4 separate regions of the Homo sapiens genome follow, and all the other regions are linked to region 3. The links come from fine-mapping of genetic effects on gene expression. A gene starts in region 3. Each other region holds a variant in brackets. All regions are shown on one strand. Distances are from middle to middle. Region 1 overlaps ADGRB3 (adhesion G protein-coupled receptor B3). Region 2 has its middle 23 kb from the start of ADGRB3-DT. Region 3 holds the start of ADGRB3-DT (ADGRB3 divergent transcript). Region 4 overlaps ADGRB3 (adhesion G protein-coupled receptor B3).

What was found. PIP is the estimated chance that this variant, and not a neighbour inherited with it, causes the effect.
Region 1: its variant is fine-mapped to the expression of ADGRB3-DT in esophagus muscle (GTEx, PIP 0.99).
Region 2: its variant is fine-mapped to the expression of ADGRB3-DT in whole blood (TOPMed, PIP 0.98).
Region 4: its variant is fine-mapped to the expression of ADGRB3-DT in whole blood (INTERVAL, PIP above 0.99).

Annotation. Positions count from the first base shown.
Region 1 is chr6:68,663,469-68,668,468 of GRCh38, forward strand. All of the region lies in intron 3 of ADGRB3 (adhesion G protein-coupled receptor B3), which reads left to right. It also overlaps the pseudogene LOC124901511. Among named protein-coding and RNA genes, the nearest start is that of ADGRB3, 31 kb to the left of the region's middle. The variant C/T (reference allele first, on the strand shown) is at 1,995.
Region 2 is chr6:68,608,204-68,614,537 of GRCh38, forward strand. No RefSeq gene overlaps it. Among named protein-coding and RNA genes, the nearest start is that of ADGRB3-DT, 23 kb to the right of the region's middle. The variant T/C (reference allele first, on the strand shown) is at 2,866.
Region 3 is chr6:68,631,005-68,637,338 of GRCh38, forward strand. It overlaps ADGRB3-DT (ADGRB3 divergent transcript), which reads right to left and starts at 3,320. Exons shown (of 2, transcript NR_125872.1): 1 at 3,181-3,320; 2 at 1,659-2,052. ADGRB3 (adhesion G protein-coupled receptor B3) reads left to right here and starts at 4,278. Exons shown (of 32, transcript NM_001704.3): 1 at 4,278-4,996. It overlaps LOC127898563, which reads left to right and starts at 4,886. Exons shown (of 1, transcript NM_001414704.1): 1 at 4,886-4,963. The coding sequence starts at 4,886. The coding sequence ends at 4,963. RefSeq lists a silencer at 4,017-4,226.
Region 4 is chr6:68,741,563-68,746,562 of GRCh38, forward strand. The region is part of intron 3 of ADGRB3 (adhesion G protein-coupled receptor B3); the gene reads left to right. Among named protein-coding and RNA genes, the nearest start is that of ADGRB3, 110 kb to the left of the region's middle. The variant C/T (reference allele first, on the strand shown) is at 2,946.

The DNA.
Region 1 (5,000 bases), 32 kb after region 3:
TTTGAATTTATGCAACCAATTTTGTACCTTTTTAAATTGTGTATATTTGCTTAGATCTGCCATTACTATCCATGTGTGTTTTGCCCATAGAAGGCAATGCATTGTAGAACTTCAGGGTTAATATGAAAGAAATATTTTGCTTTAAAGAATCGCCTGCTTCAATTTTTGCCTTCATTCCTTAGGAGCCATGAATAGAAACTTTTGAAGCTTTGAATAGAAATAATTTTAAAGTGGCAGAAATTCTACAACTATCAATGAGCAAGTTGCCTTGATTTCATCATGACTTAAATATGAAAAGCCGAAGAGAGCATTTGGCTTTCTACTGTTTCTTCTTCATCTAGAAACTTCGTTATTAAATATGTGAAAGTCAAATATGATTCAAGTATTTTAGCGTGCTACACATTGTGATCTTTAGAGTTACATTATCTATAAATTACAAGTAGCCCAACTAAAACATCTGCAGTGTGGTATTTTTGTGCAATTTAATTTTCACTAAAAGCATGAGAGTCAATAGGAAAGTCACCATCAGCAAAATTGAATTCAGAAATTTCATTCATGGGATAAAAGGATTATTTTAAAATGAGTCGAATATGCTGAATGATATTTGTCGTTTTTAAAATGATAAGTGTTCTCATTTGTCTTAATTTACTTTTATTTCTCATAGCATCCTACATTTTTAGAACGTAATAAATAATTTTAAGCACATTTTTTATGGTAACATCATTACTGAAAGCTGATGTACCCTCATTCTCAAATACCGATTTTTTTTTAGTAGTATGAAAATGTTTGAGATGTGTTTGATATTATATTTAGGATAAAATATTGTTAGAGATTGAATGTTTTTGCCATCCTTCAAATTCATATGTTGAAATCCTAATGCTAATGTGATGATATTTGGAGCTGGGGACTTTGGGTCACAATTAGTTCATGAGAATGGAACTTTCGTGAATGAGATTATTGCCCTTACAAGAAGAGGTCAAAGAGCTCGCAAGTTCTCTTTCTGCCATGTGAGTCATAAAGAAGTCAATGGCTAAGAACATGGAAGAGGGTCCTCACCAGAACCTGACTATGCTGACAACCTGATCTCAGACTTCTGGCTCCCAGAACTATGAGAAATACATTTCCTTTGTTTATCAGCCACCAAGGCTATTGTGCTCTGTTACACCTGCCCAAACTGACTAAGATAGATACCTCTGAATCCTACTATTTTTATGCTCTTCTGGCCTATATAAGAAAGTTGTGCAGAGAGTTAAGCGTGCCCAGGGATTCACAGTGGTAGAATGATGATTTGAACCCAGGCTGTCTCCAGAGCCTTCACCACTGTACTTTACTGCCTCCAAATATTTGTCTGAAATATTGCATAAGGGAGGGTGAAGGGGGCTTTTGGAGGGAAGTGAGCACAAGGAGAGTGTGGCTGACAGTGAGTGGACTGCAGCAGCTTCCATCAGAGTTTAGTCTTATACACATTCTTACTCAATCTTTGGGTGGGAGCTCATCTCTCAGTTTTTGGTGTTCATGTACTGTGTATGTAATTGGATTCGATTCTTTAAGTCACGAGATCTCTCCCCTCCCACCTTCACCAGGCTTCACCTTCAGCCTTCTTTACTGGCCAAGATACTTTAGGGAATGCTGTCCTTCTTGAAAGGTGAAGAGTGAAGGACCACTCTTTATCATCACTTCTCATTTCATGGTATTTTGTAGGTTCTCGGTGCTCTACACGTTCAGAGAAACTTCTCTAGTAACAAACTATAGAAATGATCCCTGAAAGTATAGTCTTGGTATTTTGTAGGTTCTGTAGTTTGTGTTTTGGGGTCATGGTATTTTCATTTCTTTGCTGTAAATGGATAGTTTTTCTTTCTCTTTATATTTGTTTTGTTGTGCCAATTGGGTTTCAAGAGTTGGAAGAAAAGATAAAAAAGATGCTAATTCTTTGAAGTATTTAATTGGAGTCCAAAATATATTCCTCAAAATAATTTTATCTAAATTAACATTAT[C/T]GGACCTTAGGTATTTTGGTATAACTTGAATATCTCTGGAGGAAAACAACAACAACAATAACAGTGCCTATTGCACAGAGCTCTGTTGGGGTTTAATGGAGCTGACCAACATATGCAAAGTGTTTAGACAAGTACCACATACCATGATAGTTACACGATAATGTTAAACTATCATGAACATCATCATTGCTAATTGGGGCTTCATTTTTCTAATATTAAATATGTTTTTGCTTGGATATCTCTTTAAATTCTTCAAATTAATAACTATAAATACTTTATTCTGAATATACTAATTAGGGAAATAAAATATTTCCAATAATTTATACTTATGATTTGGATTATAAGTTAACACCTTTGTATTCATGTACAGAGCTCTTATGTTAAATACTATAGTAATATAAATGTATATCACATAAACATCCTATATTAGTGTCTAAATTTTGTAATCCCAAGATTAGCAGTGCAGTATGATCTCTTAGAAGTTTATCTAACATCAAATGATAAATAAACATAATATTTGGTTTTATATAGTGACATTTAACTATTTTGGTGTGCATTCCATTTGGAATATATTCATGGGATTTATTTACCTCTGACCTTAGGCGAGACACTTCCTATCTTTGAGTGTCATGTTCTTCATTAATAAATATCTCATAGACAAGATCTCGAATCACAAACTAGCAGACCTGAGTCTACCTGAAGAAACATTTTGATGTATTAGCTCAGTGTTTAAGGCATGTTTGAAACTTAAATGCTTTCAGTCAGGGCATGGTGTCACTAGTTCCTTCAGTCTCTGCCACTCAGAATTAGCTCATGTGTAGCCACTTCATACATTTATGCTAGTTGTGTGACCACGGAAGGAATTTGAGATTTTGGCTCTTGACCTATATCTCTATGTTCTCTTCCACCATTAAAGTTGTCTATTCATGTGACTGTTCCCATTTAGAAGAGAGTTGAACAAATGGGTCCTTTTTCAATCCACTTGTCCCTATCATTACACTTTTTGATGGATACCTGTAATTGTCCTAGTCCCCTCAGAAGAAATGCTTTCTTCTGTTCTGTTGACACGCAAGTTAGTCATAGGTCCCAGAGAATAACATTGTGGTTTTTGTAAATGCTCATTGTAAAGTCTATCAAGATATTTTGAGAAAAATTTTATTCTTAATTTCTCTGAAATTAAGAATTATAAATAAAGTAGCAAATTAAAATTCTACCTTATCGTCTAATTTTGTCATTAACTATTTTTATTTCTTCTTAGAATAATTTTTGAAAACTTATTAATGTCATAACTAGAACTTATTTTGAACTTAATAAATGTAGTTGGATGACTTACCCTAAAAAAAGAAATGATAAATGACCTTGATAAGAAATACATGGAATTTTAGTGGCCAATGATTGAGATAATGGGATAATTTAAAGGAAAGTGTTTTGTACTCTCTGAAAAAAAGTATCATATCCAAATTAATGTGGTTATTTTTAGTTCTCTACAAATATGAAGTTGACCCACTATTCTTAGTATTAATAATACTACTTGGAAAATTGTAGTTGTCATTCAGTAGTTGTAATGGATTACTGTATAGTCAAACTGCATTATAAACCATGCCAGAATATATAGAATTATATTATATATAGAACATAGAGCTGGTACTTTTTTAAACTTTAGGGGAAAATGTAATGTAACTTTTATAAAATATAAAGATCAAACTGGTATCATTGGCTAAGTTCAACTTATAATCATAATTGTAGAATGATTAGAAACACTCCCATTACTTAAAAGGAAGGAACTTGTAAGATTTACAAGTGATTATTTGTTCATAGTGCAATTCAGCTAGAAATTTAATGTTATAGATTTAAGCAAAACCATCAAAGCTACCTGGTGGTTTCACAGTTCTACTAAACCTGGATGTGCATGCTAAAATGCTAATTCATAGGTCTTCCCCTGCTTAGTGTCTATAGTTCTGTGTCTTCTCTTTAACCTAATATTATAATCTTGAAAGAAATTTTAGGAATGATTCCAGTCTGAATTTATATCCGTAGAACCTGAGAAAGTCAAACAATTTTTAGAATAATATGTGTTTCAGATAAATATTTACATCAGTATAATAAATAGTTCATTCATAAGAACAAAATTTCATAACTAACTTTCTTCCAGGAAAACAGAAATTTCTGAGACTCCAAGGTTTTTTTATACCTAGGATCCCAAGCTGCATGTTGTTATTTTTGCCATATTCTATTTGTCAAAATAACTATTATAACAAGGCCAGCCCAGATTCAAGAGTCAGTGAAACAGAGCTGTAAAATTTTCTTGCCATGTTTTCAATTAACTATATCATGTGATATACTTTGGCCACTGGTACACTGAAAAATGTCTGCGACTAGGGCTAGTGTTCTGGAAAATAAGAGACCACAGGAGAGAGGCCCCACATTTAGAACAATCCCAGCTACACTGAACAATTCCAGCCACACCAGCCTCGGACCTACATATATGACCATCCAGCCCTAGCAGAACATCCTGGGGATCAGAACCACCGAGCCAAGCCACATAACCTTGTGAAACTATAAATGTTGATTGTTTAAGCTACTAAGTACCATGTAGTATAAGCTAACTGATGATAATCCCCTTTCCTGCAAGTTAGAGAACAGGAAGTTACCATGTAGAATATTGGTTCCAAACTGTAGCAGCTGCTAGAGCCAAAAAACTGAAGCCTCATGCTAAATCTTTTCATAAGCATCAATAGTGGAATGATCCCCCAAAGGACAAAATGCTTTCATGGCCATCTTTATGGCAGAAAAAACATCTCTCTTTCAAATCTTGTATAACAGTGTCTAATAAGCTGAAACTAAATCACATCCGGAACCCTACCGACAGGGAAGTCTGCAAAATGTAGATTTTAGCCCTTCAAAATTGACAGCACAGGAATTCATATTAGGAAGCTATAATAGACAGTGAGCTCCAATCCATCATATCTGCTATAATCAGCACAAGTTCTTTTTCCTTTGGTAATT
Region 2 (6,334 bases), 23 kb before region 3:
TACCATGTTCCTCATCCTTCTGAAGAAGCTGGATAGTTAGAGCAGTGGAATAGCCTTTTGAAGTCACAATTGCAATGCCAACTAGGCGACAATACTTTGCAGGACTGGGGCAAAGTTCTCCAGAAGGCCATGTATGCTCTGAATCAACCTCCAATATATGATACTGTATCTCCCATAGCCAGGATTCACAGGTCCAGGAATCAAGGGATGAAAGTGGAAGTGGCACCATTCATGATCACCCCTAGTGATCCACTAGCAAATTTTTGCTTCCTGTTTCCATGAAATTATGTTCTACTGGCCTAGAGGTTGTAGTATCAGATGGAGGAAGGCTGCTACCAGGAGACACAACAATCATTCCATTAAACTGGAAGTTAAGATTGCCACCTGGACACTTTGGGCTCCTTCTACCTTTAAGTCAACAGGCTAAGAAAGGAATTACAGTGTTGGCTGCGGTGATTGACCCAGGCTATCAAGATGAAATCAGTCTACTACTCCACAGTGGAGGTAAGGAAGAGTACTCATGGAATACAGGAGATCCCTTAGGGTTGCTCTTAGTATTACCATGCCCTGTGATTAAGGTCAATGGGAAACTACAACAGCCCAATCTAGGCAGGGCTACAAATGACCCAGACCCTTCAGGAATGAAGATTTGGGTCACTCCACCAGGAAAAAAAAACCACAACCTGCTTGCTAAAGGCAAAGGGAATACAGAACAGGTGGTAGAAGGTAGTAATCAATACCAGCTATGACCACGTGACCAGCTGCAGAAACGAGGATTATAAATGTCATGAGTATTTCCTCCTTCTTTTGTTAAAAACATGTTTGTGCATGTATACACTTGTACTTAAAACAGCTTCATTTTATTTTCTTCTTCCTTTATCATGTGACATAAGATTTATTTATTTCACTTCAGCACTTAAGTATTGTTAACTTTATGGAATAGCATTTGATTGGGGATTGGTGCATTTCTGGTTGTACAAAGGAGAGTTGTATTAAGTTTGATGTAATTATGACATTATTGTCTTTATTTGAAGGTGATGTATGATCTCTGGAGATGTGCATGGGTTCAAGTTGACAAGAGGCAGACTTGTAATGGTTAATACTGAGTGTCAACTTGATTGGATTGAAGGATGCAAAGTATTGATCCTGACTGTGTCTGTGAGGGTACTGTCAAAGGTGATTAACATTTTAGTCAGTGGGCTGGGGGAGGCTGACCCATCCTTAAATCTGCACGGGAACCATCTAATCAGCTGCCAGTGAGGCTAGGATATAAAGCAGGCAAAAAAAAAAAAAAAATGTGAAAAGGCTAGACTGGCTTAGCCTCCCAGCCTACATCTTTCTCCTGTGCTGGATGCTTCCTGCCCTTGAACATCAGTCTCCAAGTTCCTCAGCTTTGGGACTCGAACTGGCTTCCTTGCTCCTTAGCTTGTAGACAGCCTATTGTGGGAATTTGTGATCGTTTGAATTAATAATACTTAATAAATTCCTTTATATCCTATTAGTTCTTTCCCTCTAGAGAAGCCTAATACAGGTCGTATTCAGACAAATTCAAGTATCAGACAAATGGTCTGAAATTTTTGAAAAATATCAACACCAACATCATGAAAGGCATAAATGGAAGGGAGTGGCTCTTCCAGATAAAAGGAGACTACACCTAAATTCTATGCTTTATATATCACTGAAGTCTGAATGTTTTATAAAAGTTATGAAGAACATTATTAGGAAATTTAATTTTTTCTCAAAATAAACTATATCTTACTGTATTATTATTAATTTCTTTTGGTTATTGTGGTGGAGTTATAGGACTACATTTCTCACCACTACTAAGTATTTTATGTTGTGTTTGTGAATTATTACAGTTCTGTCATTTTCTCAATGTGATCAATAAGCAAGCATTTATTTAGGGCCACAAGGGGATTCTGGGGCTTAATGACAAATCACAATAATTCAGAATTATATACCAAAAAATGGCAAATTCTATGGTATGACAAGTGCTTTTATATATATATACACACATATGCATGTCACTGGATATATGTGTGTGTGTGTGTGTGTGTGTGTGTGTGTGTGTGTGTGTATCTCACTGGAGATTCTATTAAAAGGCAGATTCTGATTTGGTGGGTTAGCAGTGGAGCCTGAGAGTCTGCATAATGTACTATGGGCCCTTGGATCGCCAGTTTAATAGCAAGGAGTACAGACTGAAAGAGCTCTAACATAAATAAATTATAAAGAATTGGAGTAGTTAAGAAAGCCTTCATAGAATAAAAGAATCTTGATATTTTTACTTTTTTCAAAAATGAAGGGGCAAGGTGTAAGACAGAAAGTTATAATAACTGTTCATTTCTTCATTCTTTACCTCGTGTATCTTCTCAGCAGCTGGCATGTAAAAGACACTATGTGCAACAGTGAGGGCAGTGTTTTGATTCATTTTAGTGTCTCTCACAGTGTTTTATATAAAAGATGAGTTCAGTGAATATATTTATTGAACCCAATTTAATTTATGGCTAGGGAATAACCTGGAAAGGGAATTAGAGAGAGAAATTATCATGATGCATTTGTGGGTTGGTAAAATAAATAGTTCCAACTCCAGAGAAGCTTAATGTGCCTGGAAGGAGAGGGTGAAAAAAGATTATGAAACGTCTTGAAACAATAACAGAGAAGTGCGCATTTTGTGTAGTTGAAGTTTTCTAAATTGCGAAATAAGATTCTAAAAATAATGTTATAGGACATTTATTCTGGCAACAAAAAACAGTCTTGATTGGAGAGGTGCAAAGTAGCCAATGGGAACCTGCAGCATAATCCAGAGCACCTGGCTCTCCTAATTTACCAGTCTTCTGGCTTCAATCATTTCCTTTGCCATTTTCT[T/C]TTTGGTCTATATCAAAGATTGAGGAAACTAAGTGTCTTCTAATTCCAGGACACTAGGTCATTAGTAAAGATGAGACCTTGGTCATCTTTTTTCTTTGTCCATATCAAAGCTCTTATATGCATAGCTGATATATTTTTAACCTTTTACAACTATCTTTTAAAATCAACTTCTTGTCTGAATTGTTGATAAAAATTCAAGCTGGGCAATTATTGAGGCTAGCCTTTTAGTTACAAACATTTAAAATCCTCCATGGGTTACATTTAAACCTGTTAGTAAATATTCACATGCAGATTGTGAATAATTTCTTCCTCTCCATGTTTGCATTTTCCTTTTCTGAACATTGTCTTTTGATGAACCAAATTGTTTTTAAGAATAATTTATCCACTTTTTATCCATACCCAATAAAATATTGGAAATTGTCTAGAGACTTTGGAAAGGAAAATACAGATCCTTCCCTAACAACCCTCAGAAGGAACCAACCTTGCCAACACCTTGATTTGAATTTGTATGCTTCAGAACTGTGAGATGATAAAGTTCTGTCTGTAAGCCACCTAGTTTGTTTTCCTTTGTTACTGCAGCCCTAGCAAACAATAAAATACAATTTGTGTGCATAAAAGAAAATAATGACCTAGAGAGATTAATTAACTCATCCAGGGGAATACATCCAATGATATCAGAACTTGTTCTCAAACTCATTTATCTCTGATTGTGAAGGCCTTGCCCTTAACCACTGTACTACATTGAAGAAGTGTAAATAGTTAATAAACACATGAAAATAAGTTAATCCTCACTAAATGATATTTTAAGAAATGATTTGTCTTAATTTCATATCAATAGAAAACTATTTAAATACTAACTACTGCTTGGTAGATGGTTTATTAAATTGATCACTATCTCTTATTGTTATTTAGAGTAGAAATTAACACAGACTCATTTATGGCATTTGATAAGTTGGCAATATAAATATATGAAAGTCCTTAGACATGTTTATCATTTTCACTCAGAAAGGACTTATTTTTAAATATCAGTAGAACTGGGTAAAAAGTTTATCACTGCAATATGGTTACTAGTACCAAAGTACTGAAAACATTCAAAATGATCACACATAGCGGAAGGTTTAAACAGATTATAGCACATTCATATGATGGAATTTTATGTGGCCATTAAAATGAAGATGTAGAAAAAAGTTTTTAAAGAAATACCAAATATATATATTTTTAAATGTTATTGGTAGAAAGTTTTAATTTTCATGAAAGAAGTGAGAAATATATAGTAAGATTTAACAGATGTTAAATTTTACAGTTTGAAATTTTCTAAATTGGGGAATAAGATTTTAAAAGTAATGTTTTAGGACAATTATTTATTTATTATTTAGTCTCAAAGATTATTATATCAAAAAATAACACTCAACGGATAGCTTTAAGAACATTCACACCACTCTCCTTTTTTCTGTCCTCCTTTTCTGGTGGTAAACCCTATCTTGAAACTGTTATGTTTGTTTTCTGTGTTGTATATATAAAATAATTTTGAATTTTAGGATTACATAAATGGTTTCATACTCTAGTATCAGCTTTTCTATTCAATTGCTTTCAAGTTGAAAGGCAAAATATATCACTTCAATGAAGCATTTAAATTTTCTTTTCCACTTAAGAAAGTATGTTACAAAATATATACAGGATGATACAACTGTGTACATATATTCTCATGTATTTATGCATAGGCAACAATATGAATAATTGTAAACAAAAATCTTATTTTGTTTAGTTCTGAATATTTTCTTCTTCAAACTATGAACTGTTCATATTTTTTAAAAACAAACATTCCTTGTGAAATTATATATATACATATATATGTAATTTCTGTTCACAACTCTAAAGAATCTCATTCATAAATCAAGAAATATGCAACATGAAGAAATTATTCACCCATTACTATTCTGTAGAAGAAAGTGATGCCTAAATTTTAGTCTCCAAAATAAACTTTAATTTATAAGCTGAAGTGATTTAAACATATATGAAACCTGTATCACCATATATCATCATAATTTATTTGTGGAAATAAGTTAAAAATGGGACACATTAGTCCACTAAAGAAATAGTTATAAAGAGAAACAAAATGTTCAAGTAAATATAAGGAAAGTATGGGCAAACCTAAAAAGTAATGTATAGTTAAGAGAAAATGACATTAAACATCTGACTTTATTAATAAGATAGTAAAATGTTTCAAAAGTGTCAACCCATGAACAGAGACTTGGAATAAGAAAATAAAATGATTTTAATTATCATGGTGTTTATTGAAATAAGATAGTGAGTTATCTGATAAATCCCAGAAACCTCTCATTTGTGTGGTAAAATGTAACACAATGGCCTGAGAAGAGCCTGCAACAGCTCAAGGAGTCTAGACGGCAGCTTTTAGGGCACAGAGCACAGTGGTGCCCTGGAGGACAAGGACAGTTTTTTTGTTTGTTTGGAAGCTCAGTGTTGGGCCACATAGTTCTCTCTGACTGTATCTTCCATCAACTCCCCTTTTCGTTCAAACTTTCTTGTACCAAAAACACAGTAAGCAAATGTCTATCTAGCTCATGCCTTGGCACTTATTATCTCTACCATTTCAAATACCTCTGGCTTCAGATACAAGACGGATTGAATTCCTTATGGTGAAGCAGGTTCACTGTGCCCCAGTATCAATTCCAGAGGAGGACTGTAAACACCTCACCAATACCATGGACTGGTTTTAATTCACTTGTGTGAGTTCAGTGGAACAGCACTCATACAAACAAGTTAAGTGAAGCAACTTCTCACTCACAGAGAAGTAGTAGGGGACAGTAAAAGCCTAAGACTAATGGCCAGCTGTTCAGGAAGGCTGTCCAGGGCAGATGGAGTCTTTTCTGCATGTGTCTCACATTGTGCTGCAGGTGAGAGACCCTGAAAACATTCCTCGCTGGGTTTTACACCCCAGAGTACCTTATGCATTGGGCTAAATTGTTCTGGGGGTACAGGAACAGAGCTTGGGCTCTTCCAGCCACTTCCCCTTATCTCAGGATGTTGCATCCACAGCATATTCTACAGTTATTCTACCAACTTCAAGGAAGAAAAAGGGTGGGGAGCCTGGTCAGCCAAGGTCACACAGAAACTGTCCTGCACTCACTACTTTGGGTCTCTTCTCAAAGACCACAGAGGCCTTTCTTGACCACTTGTAAAAAACAGCTGACCCCACCTTCTCCGTCACTCTCTACTCCTCTACGTGGGTTTACTCATAATCATAGCACTTAGCACCACATGGCATATGCATCTAGAGATCTGAGAACTTTTCTATTCTGTTCATTGCTGTATCACAGGACCTAAAATAATGCTTGGAACATAATGGATGCTAAACAAATATTATCAAATCAGTGGTGAATGTATAGGGTATAATAAAGGGAATGGAATTCTAAGTTAGATTTCAGTCTATTTGGAGCCTATCCATAGA
Region 3 (6,334 bases):
GTGTCAGTTTCGTGAGTAAAAATGAAGAATCTTGATTTCTAGTATAATTGAAATTTCAGGGATTAAAGATAATGGTGTAAGTATAGTAACTTTATATGAGAAAATAACTAGCTGAAAAAGGTCAAATTTGGGGGTGAATGTATGTTCGATTGCAAACCCATATTTTGAGGTTTTAAAGTCCATATTTTCCAAGATACTTCTACAGCACACAAATATGACATTATGTGTTACCTACTTACAGCATTTCCTTAATATCACCAATGAAATCTTGAAAATTGATGGCCAAAAGTATTTACCGACTTTTTTTTAACTTGTATCGTTGTATAGGGAAATAATGATAAAAAATGGAAACCTGATGCAACTGGGATTTTTGTAACCTTGACTTTGCCTAGCATGGAATAGGACTACACTTGAACTAACCCAGGATAGCTGTTCTATGACATCTCCCTTAACCCCAAGTCTATCCCTTTATTTTTTAGTACTTCAATGTACTTTCTATTCTGGGATGTCCAAGTAGAAAATGACCAATTTGTTTTTTTACATAGAGACTAGAGGATATACAGCTTGGTTTCTGAGAGACTTCCTTTTTTAATAATAATAAAATAATGATAATAAACAGGAGACAGAGGAGAAGAAGTTGTTTAACTTTATAGTAAATATGCTAATATTAAGGATAAGTTCTCATAACAATGTAATCTTGTAATATTTTGATCATTTAATTAACATTCCAAAGCTTTGTGTATGTGTGTGTATATATATGTGTGTGTATATATGTATGTGTGTACATATATATGTGTATATATATATGTGTGCATATATATATATGGGAGATACTAAATACTAAATACTAAAAACTAAATACTAATACTAAATACTAAAAAATTAAGGCATATTTAACAAGAAATAACCTACAAACCTATCCATGCTTCTTAAAGCCTTACTGAAAATAACAAGTCACAGAGTTTAGAATGTGGTAATACAGTAATATCAGAAAAACTATGACAGAAAGAAGGAAAGAGAAAATACTTTCTAAAATTGAGTAAACATATTCTAGAAACATTCTTATTTGAGTATGAGAATTCTGCAAATGATACTGAATTTTAAGCAATGATCCTGGATTATAGGGTTATTCTCAAAGTGGAGGGACTAAACTTAGCACATACAGACAAAAAGATGAAACAGAAATAAATCACACTTATAACCTCATCATTCCAAAGTAATCTTAATAAAATAATAGCAGGAGAGATAAATTTGAAAGGCTTTAATATTAGATACCTGGGTCAATTTAAAATGCCATACCAGACTATATTTTGATGTGCTAACACTGACCTCTCAATAGTTCTTCTGTAAATCATCAAGGAAACTTATGTAATAATCAATTTATACAATTAATGTGGTAGTTTTGGAATTAAATGCATTACCTTATAAAAGAGAAATACAAAGCAATGTAGTGAAACTTCCCAAGCAAATATATGTGTATCAACTGAAATACACATATACATATCATATACATATATATACACACACGTGTATGTGTACTTACAAATAATGCGTGCATACATATACATATGTATGTATAAAATATGTGTATATGTGTTTATATATGTAAACATAAATATAGACATAGACTTGTGAAAGAGACCAATGAAAGCAGATAATTATAATTTGAAATGGTGATTTTAATATGTATTCAGTCATAAAAGTGGACCAACATCAATAGAAAGGAAAGGACAGAGAGCTGAGGGTGTGTAAACTGCTGCTCTCTTTTTGCTGTTGGGTCAACATGTCAGCAATGCTTTCATATGGAGCAGCTTGCAGACATGAAACAAGGTGGTTCCTCCTTTCTTTGCCTTTGGATTGTGCTGTTGTTAGTGTCCAGAGACCAGACTGTCCATATAGGGTTCTTTTTGTGATTCTTTATTATAATCCCCTGAGGAAGTCAGACGAGCCTGGGGTTACTGGAGACAGTGTCTTGCTTGGCGTAGTTATCATCCACAAATCATCTGCTATAAATATATCTCAGAAGGATCATCATCAGGCCAGCTCAGTAGCCTGCAATTTATGAAGGTTATGAGAAACAATGTGAAGGGTGAAGCGCTTTATTAAGGGTGGCTTTCTTTTCTGACCCTGCCCTGACTTCTACTTGAATATAAATGATCCTGGGAGTAAGTGAACCTTTCCATTTAGGATTTAGGCTTTTAAATTGTCCCTTTCAGCTGTTATTCTTATGCCACTGTGTCATGACTTTAAGAATTTCTAAGAAACATCAAAATCAGTGTTACAAGATAATATGAGAAATCACTAGATGCAAAATAGAGGTATAACTGAACCTCACATTACATTCTTTCCTTTTTATGTATAAACCATCCAAAGCATTTTTTCCTCCGTTTTTATTCCACATCTGTCATGCTTTTTTTTCCTCTGGATAAAGTAACAGAACTGACCAAATTGCCTTGCGAAAATCATAATTACGATCTCTAGGGAAGTTGAAATAAATAAAATGTTTTTCTCCTTTGTGTTGCTCAATGTTCTTTGTTTTTAAAAGAAAATGTGTTGCTTAAACGGTGTTTCAAAATTTGTTCTGGACATAAACCCTAATTATTTCCTTTTAACATTTCCTTAAATGAATAAAAAATATTGTAAAGAACCAAAATGACACAAAACCAAAATGCCACCCAGGCTGCTCTCTTGCCGGTGATTTGTTACTGGGAAAATAGTTAAAGCCTGCTGGGGAATTATTAACTGTTTCCCCTTACAGTGTTTATCCCAGGCATTCGTTTAAGACGGGAAAGCCTTGAAGAGGGTCACTCTATTAATATGCATTAAGAAGTAAAGGACCAATTTTAATATTTCAAACAACTCCAGTGGATAACAGACCATAAACTTCCTGTTTTCACTATCAATCTCTTTTAAAATGGTGTTCTTGGCTATCCATAATCGCCCCAGGGGAGAGAAACAAGCGGAGGAAAAAAATGCAAGAGTGAGGGGAACAAATGATGGAAAATTGCTTTATTCAACTTCACCTGCCGCTCGAGAAACTCACCCTTACGAAGATTCCAGCACTTTATATGAATTACCCATTATGGTTTCCTCCCACCACATCACTGCACTATTTTAGCACTTGTTTTGCAAACCACCAACTGCGTTTACAAGTAGAAACATAATCAGGAGGCGAATGACCTTTTGTAGCATGTATCTGAAGCTGGTTTATCAGACACTTCGTCAGCCAACTGTCCAGGAGGCAAAATGACTATCTATGATGATAGATAGACAGACAGATAGATAGTTAGATTAAAAGGTGGGGAAACATCCCTTTTCCCTTTTTCCTTTCTATATAATCTGGTTTTTTCTCTTCACCCCTTTTCTCGCTTCTTCCCACCCCGTCCCCAAACCTGTTACTAGGGAAACTTGAAAAAGAATCAGATACATTAAGACTACAAAACGAAACAAAAGTTTAGACCCCGAAACCATGATTCCATTGCCAAGCACAAAGCAATGCAAGAGCCCAACGTCGGTCGCCGCACCGCGATCCTGACAAAGCCTGTATGGAGCCAGAACAAATAAGATGTTAATTGCAGCCTCGCAGAGAAAAAAATACTATTGTTCCAGCCAGAGACACTCAGCAGCTCGGTAGCTGGGATGTGCCCCCTCCGCTGCGGACTGGATCAATTCTGAATCCCGGTACTGAAATGACAGCTCTCTGGCTGCGACAGGTCTGCGCTGAAAGAAAGAGAAAGACGATCAAGTCCAGCATTCACTTCCCACCCTTCAGAGTCGCCTTCCCATCCTCCGCACCCCCCTGCCTCGCCTCCCAGTGAGTTTCTCTTACAGTTGGTCGCCGCCAGCCCCAGCGGTGGGAACTGAGGATGCAAAAACCTCCCAGACGCAGAAAATACCGCTTTCGGGACGTGCTTGGGTTTGAGTAGCCGTGACGTGCAGGCGAACCGCGGCCCTGGCTGGAGCTCCGTGGAGCCCCCCTCCCGCCAGCCTCTCCCCCGCCCTCCCGCCGGGACTCCCTCCTCTCCCACCCCGCGGCTCCCTTCGCCTTCTCTCTCACACACCCGCCCGCGCCCCCGGCAGGCAGAACTCCAGGAAGTCGCAGCGGCCGCGCCGCGCGAGCCGAGCCTCTGGCGGGCGGCGGGGCGCACCGCAGCTGTGCATAAGAAGGGCGCGCGGCACCCGGGACGCGCGCGCACACGAGCACGCGGGAGGCCGCCGCGCGGACGCGCTCCCGGGACACGCGCACCCCCCGCGCGCGCGCCCAAGGGAGAGCGAGCACTGCGCGCCGGCGCGCACACCCGAGACAGAGCTTTACTATCTCGCTCCCTCTCGCGCCTCCCTCCTCGCTGGGCATTCAAACAGCTTTCCGACATCACCAGCCAAGGATTTTTTTCCCCGCTCTCCTTAGTCGCCGTCCGTCCATCAGTACCTGCAGGGGGGAGGAGGAGGAGGGAGGAAAGCGGAAAGAGGAAAAAGCATAAGCTTGAGCCTTCCGATCCGACCACGAATACTCCTGTAATAAACCCACCGCCCCAACAAATCTGCCATAGCAGCCGCCGCCGCCGCCGGTCACTTCTCGTCTCAGCGCTTTCTTTGCTTCTTGGTTTGTTGGGGGTAGCTTTTATGAAACAAATCTTTGCTATTAAGCCACTTACATTTTGGGGGGTTCCTTAGAGTCTCCCTTGGGGGGGCTTCTCCCTCCCTTTAGCCCCCCTCGGTTTGGAGGTTGGATTCAGTTGGATACGGCGCAAGGTTCTGGGCTCCTGCTGGCTTTTTTTTCCTCTCTCTCATCGACCCCCCTTTGGTTCCCACCCCCCACCTTTTGCTTTTCGTATGTATGCATTTTTAAAAATAAATCCTGATTTTGGAAGCTGAGCCGGGGAAAATGGGCAACGGTGATTGGGACCGAAGGGGAGTCTCTCCGTCACTGTTGCTGGGACGCGTGCCTGTGCTGGTGTCTTAGAGCAAGAGCCTCCCTGAGCTTTCGGAGTGGAAGGTAAGGAAGGGGGTCCAGGGGTCACCTTTTCTCTGCCGGGGGTCGCCACCGTGGAGCTTTGGGCTTAATGTTTGAGAAGGGAGGAAAATGAAAGGAAAGGCTGTTGCTGGCGGATGGGGAGGCTGTGAGCAGATCCGACTGTCTGCATTTACTTAAACGCCGCAGTTGAAAAGTTAGAGAAGTCTGGTTTTCAAGAGATGTGCTGGGTCAGAAGGAATAAGCGGAGAGACCTAGAAAATCTGGCAGTTTTGTGTGATTGGGGTAATTTTATGAGGGGAAAATTTTAGGTTAAAAGGAAGTTAAGAGAAGGCAGTGGGTCTTCTATTGGGGGGAAAAATCTGTGGAGTGATGGCGCCGTCTATGTTCGACTAAACTAAAGTGTCACCCAGAAAATCAGTTTTGAGAATAGCTAAACTCAATGCTGGTTTGCTTCTCAGCAAGAGATAAATAAATAAATAAATAAATAAATAAATAAATAAAACATCCTTGACACCTCCGTGGCCAGCCTTTGCCCCCGCCCCCACCCCTTCTTTAAGAGGGAAACACGGCTTTTTGAACGGGCCCTGCAGTCCAAAGGGGGGTGAGGGTAATGATTTATTTTTTATTATTTAGAACAAAATAAGACTGTGTACTCCAGACTGATTAAAAATAAAGAGCATTATATTGAGTGCGCTCTCTTGAGCAGGCATTAAAGTGAATTCAGAGCTATTTCCTCACTCTCTGATCATTGATGAGCACGGCATTGCAGACATGCACTGTCAAATAAATGAAAGCAAAAGTACCAATTTCATTAGGAAAAGACATACGACCTCTTTTTGAGTTCCTGATTATAAAATGAAGTCCCCTTTCATGGATGGAATTCCTAATTTAGACACTTATTGTCACATTGGCTCTCAACGCCTACACTCTATCCTGAAGAACACTGCGCAGACCTGCATTGCCTGCAAAGTGCAACACCAAAAAAAAAAAAAAAAAAAGGAAATTATTTCCAGAATTTCTTACAACTTTCTCTGTTTTTTTTTAACCTTTAAATGCTCATTGGCTTTATTTTCTCATGAAGAAAATGCATTATTCATTGAGCTATTTGCTTGAAACAGAGAACACTGTTTTGATGGTCCCAGCAGTTCTGATGTTATTTTAAACTGCTGCTATATAGAGATTTAGAGTTGGGGCTGTGTTTGCCTATATCAAGACATAGAATTTGAATTATAATCTGGAAAATGCAGATCTATCTTCAGGGACTTCGGTCACTGGATTTGGTGTGCATGCGTTGGTGTGTGTTATGCAATGGGAAGGAAGAGGGTTTTATCCTTTGATTCAGAGAAGACCCAGGCAAAG
Region 4 (5,000 bases), 110 kb after region 3:
GTTTTTGCAGAGGCAGGGTTTCACTGTATTGCCCACGCTGGTCTTAAACTCCTGAGCTCAAGTGATCCTCCCACCTCACCCTCGCAAAGTTCTGAGACTACAGGCTTGAGCACTGTGCCTGCCCTGGCCTTCTTAACCACTGTTTGTTACCTTTTCTATCATAAGTATAGAAGAGTAATCTAATATCAAACTGGCTGATTAAGGTGACAGGTTGAATTATTGTCATCAGTTTTTTACAACCTAAACATTTTTGCTTCTGATGAAATGTTCTTTAAAAATTCTTTTCAGCATTCCTTTTTGCATTCTTCTTCTTATAACGTTTTAGCTAAATATGCAAATTCATTATCATTCACGAGTTCACATGTTGTTTAAGTAGGAAGGACCACATGGGAAAATTCATAAAAACTTTGAACACAAGTTTCTGTGTTAAAAATGCAAAGAACTGAATGTTCATATATCTTTTGTTTGAAGAATTTAGCTTAAAATATGAAGAAAACTACATGGAAACACTTTCCCTGAAATAAGTTAAAATTGTGATGTCATTCACTGACTATTATTGCTTTGCCACTGACTTCTGAAGAAATCCTAGGAGATAAATTGCTTGTGGTGTTTTCTCCCCAGTCTTATCACAAGTCATTGCTAATGAGTGGCTTCTTCATGATGTAAACTAGTTTCAAATTCAGCATATATTGTAATTCTTCCAGTTCTCATTAAGCACACTGTTTATATATTATGTCTCAACATAAATATATGAATGGAAATTTAATCCTTTCTATGACAGGTCATACACATTTTAAAGGAACTCTTATAGTTTTTTTTTTCTTTCTCTGGGTCTTGACTCTGACAGAGGGGAAAAAGAAAAATAAAAGCACTATCTATATTAATCATTCTCAGGAATAAGGCTGATTCTTTGAAAAGTGAGTTGTTATAGTTGAAAGGACAGGTTTAAAATTTGGATTAGAAATTGAAACCTGACTCCTCTGCTTCCCACATCTGCACCACCCAAAGAAGTCACTTACTCTCAATAAACAGAGAATAATAAATGCCTACCACATAGATTTTCTGTGAAGGTTAAGTTAGAATAAAGGAGAGGTGAATATTTCACCACAGTATTTGGCACTAAGCAGGGAATCACTAAATGTTAAATCATCCTAAAATATTAATTGAAGTCTTAAGAAATAATGTGATAATAAAGTAGCCACGTAAACTTCTAGATATTGTTTTTCCTCAAAAAGGAAAATAAACTAAATGGTGTGAACATTAAAACATCTATTAATATTTTATATAGTGGGATACATGTAATTTTAATATATTTTTTATAATTTTCTATTTTTTCCTAAATTTTATGTAATAAAGATGTATTTCTTGTATCTTTTTAAGCAACTATTTTTTCACCCCTGTTTGGAGTTCTATAGTACTTGTGTTTATTCTTACAGCTCAGTTTACCAGATATGACTAGGCATGCGTATACGTTTTCTGATATATCTAGGCTGGATTTCGTGAGCTCTTTCAGTCTATAGAATCACATTTCTTTAGCTCAGAAATTTGCTTCAATTAAATATTTAATTATAGATTCTTTCTCTGTTCCTTCTTTTATTGTTATTCCTATTACTTGGGTATGAGGTCACCTGAATATATCTGCCAAGTCTCATCTTTTCTCTCATGTTTTCCTTCTCTTCTGGATCATTCAGGCTACTGATTAAGATCTCAGCAATGACTGTGCTCACCTTCAATATATCTTCTGATTTCCTAAGTTGAGACATCTGAATCTTCTACTTGTTTTTTTTTTTGTGTGTGTGTGTATATCCAGAAATTCTTGTTAGTGGTAGATTTGAAAATGTTTAAGTGCTCCATTTTTTTTTTCTGTTCGGGAAGTTTCCTGACTTTCCAAATAGTTTGATAACCCATGTTTTCTTAGACATGTGTTCTATTTTTTGAGGCTGAACTTTCCTTCACTATTAATTGTGTGAGTGTATATATGCATGTTTGTATCTTCTTAAGTCAGCTCTGGTAAAGTTGTTGGGTTACACTAGACATAGACATTCTGAAAAGAGATAAGGAAATTCACTAAAAAGGAAATAGAAATTCCCCAAAATATGAGAAATAAAACTGACACTCAGAACTTGCCAGAAAAATGCAAATTAAAATGAAACTTAATTTTACACCAACAAGTAAATTTCTGTTGAGAAATTAAGAGAACTAAATAACAGAATTGTAGCAGTTTTGCAGAAACTGTTAATTCTGTTATATTGTTAATTTTGTAATTTATGTTAATTAAATAACAGAAATTAAGAATCATAGCGCTAATGTGTAGGGAACAGAGGACTGCTTAGAAACTGCTGGTGGAAGTGAGAATGGTTAGAGCCCTCCTCCTTTTTTTGTGAAACAATCTGGAGTCTATTAAAATTTAAAACACAATATATGTATATATGTATATATATTTTATTTGTAGAGTATCATACACTCATGGAAAAATGACAGGTTGTTTTCATGGGTAAAAGGTTTGTACATGAGTGAAATTTGACAAGTAGTGTTGGAAAGAGATGGGGAAGAATAGAGCTAAGAATGAAGGAAAAGAAGAAAACACACATTTTATTTTATCTTGAAGGCTTCTATTTTACTAATTGCATTTATAATACAAAAACAGAACTTTTTTTAATGAATAAATATATCAAATAAAAAACAGAGAGGATGTGAAGAAATAGGAATGCTTTACACTGTTGATGGGAGTGTAAATTAGTTCAACCATTGTGGAAGACAGTGTGGCAATTCCTCAAGGATCTAGAACTAGAAATCCCATTTGACCCAGCAATCCCATTACTGGATATATAACCAAAGGATTATAAATCATTCTACTATGAAGACACATGTATACATATGTTTATTGCAGCACTATTTACAATAGCAAAGACTTGGAACCAGACCAAAAGCCCATCATTGATAGA[C/T]TGGGTAAAGAAAATGTGGCACACATACACCGTGGAATACTATGCAGCCATAAAAAATGATGAGTTCATGTCCTTTGCAGAGACATGGATGAAGCTGGAAACCATCATTCTCAGCAAACTATCACAAAAACAGAAAACCAAACACCACATGTTCTCACTCATAAGTGGGAGTTGAACAATGAGAACACATGGACACAGGAAGGTGAACATCACACACCAGGGCCTGTTGGGGGATATGGGGTTAGGGAAGGGATAACATTAGGAGAAATGCCTAATGTAGGTTGTGGGTTGATGAGTGCAGCAAACCACCATGGCACGTGTATACCTATGTAACAAAACTACACGTTCTGCACATGTACCCCAGAACTTGAAGTATAATTTTAAAAAATAGGAATAAACAAAGAGAAATATAAAAAGAACCCAATCTGAAAATCTAAGTAAAGCAATTTTGTAACAAAGCAGGAATAGGCCTCAAATACAATAAAAAAGATGGAAAGTGCCCCAGGTCTCCTATTACCTATAGCCTGTGGGTGAGTGGTTACACTATCTAAAAATCACTATGCTCCAGCAATCCCACTTTTGGATACACTACCAGAATAATTGAAAGCAGAGTTCTGAGGAGATATTTGCACATCCATGTTCACAGCAGCACTATTCACTGTAGCCAAGAGGTAGAAGCAACCTAAATGCCCATTGACCATTGACAGAAGAATAAACAAATTGTGGTGTATACATACAATGGAATATTTTTCAGCCTTAAAAATGAAGTAAATTCTGTCATAAGCAACAACATGGATGAAGCCTGAGGACATTATGCTAAGTGAAATAAGCCAGTCACAAAAATATATTGTATGATTCCACTTATATGAGGTATCCAAAGTAGTCAAATTTATAGCAACAGAAACAATGGTGGTTACCAGGGAATGGGGAAATAGGGAAGAGAGGAGTTGTTTAATGAGTATAGAGTTTCAGATTTGCAAGATGAAAAAGTTATGAACATCTGTTTCCCAACAATGTGAATGTAACATTTAAAAATAATTAGTAAAGTTTGTTATGTGTTTTTTACCTGAATTAAAAAATATTCTCAGTAGATATTCTGTTCTCCCTTCTGATCTTCATGAATTATATATATATGTCATATATGTAATCTTATTTATTTTGAAATAAATGTATTTTCTTATTTATATTGTATATTAATATGTATATTTGTATATTTAGAAATGAATTTAGAATGTACATATATGTGTATATATCCCCCCACACACATATTTAGTTATGGCTTTCCCTTTGATGTGAGCTTATCATTTATTTTGTTCTGTAGCTGACCTTTTCCACTTCACAATATAACACAGCTTTCCTTCCATGTCTCCTTATTGCGATTTGTAATAATGATACTGTTGATGATGATAACTTTACAATTATTGAAACCATAGTATTTGCCAGACACTGTTTCCTATTATTTTATTGATGGGCATATTTATTGCAAAATTGCTACAGTAAACAACTGTAAAAATTTTCTCATGGATGTATTTCTATGAGTAGAATTCTGCATCACAGATATGAACATTTACATTTTTTCCCATTTTTAAATGTTAGTGCTGCCAAATTAGCCTCCATAGAGCTTGAAAATATCCTTTCTGGTATACTCTTGCCAACGTTGCCTAATATAAATTTAAATAATTTATCTAAAAATTTTAAAATGTTTACTAATGTAATTTTTAATATATCACATTACTATTTTAATTTTTCTTTCTTCAATTCCTAGTGAGGTGAGAAGCTTTTCTTATGTTCATAGGTGATTTGTATGTTTTCTGACTACCTCTTGTTTGTATCCTTAATTTACTTATCCCTTTTTAAGTTATTATTTTCTTCTTATTGATTCACAAGAGCCCTTTCTATAACTATGTTTAGGAAGTATCTCACTATAAAAATGTTTATAATTTTTATATAATCAAATAAACTGGAATTTGTTTGAAATACATGATACTACATCATAATTAGAATCCTGTTTCTCATATCTTAATAGAATTCATCCCATTGTGACTTGTGACATGG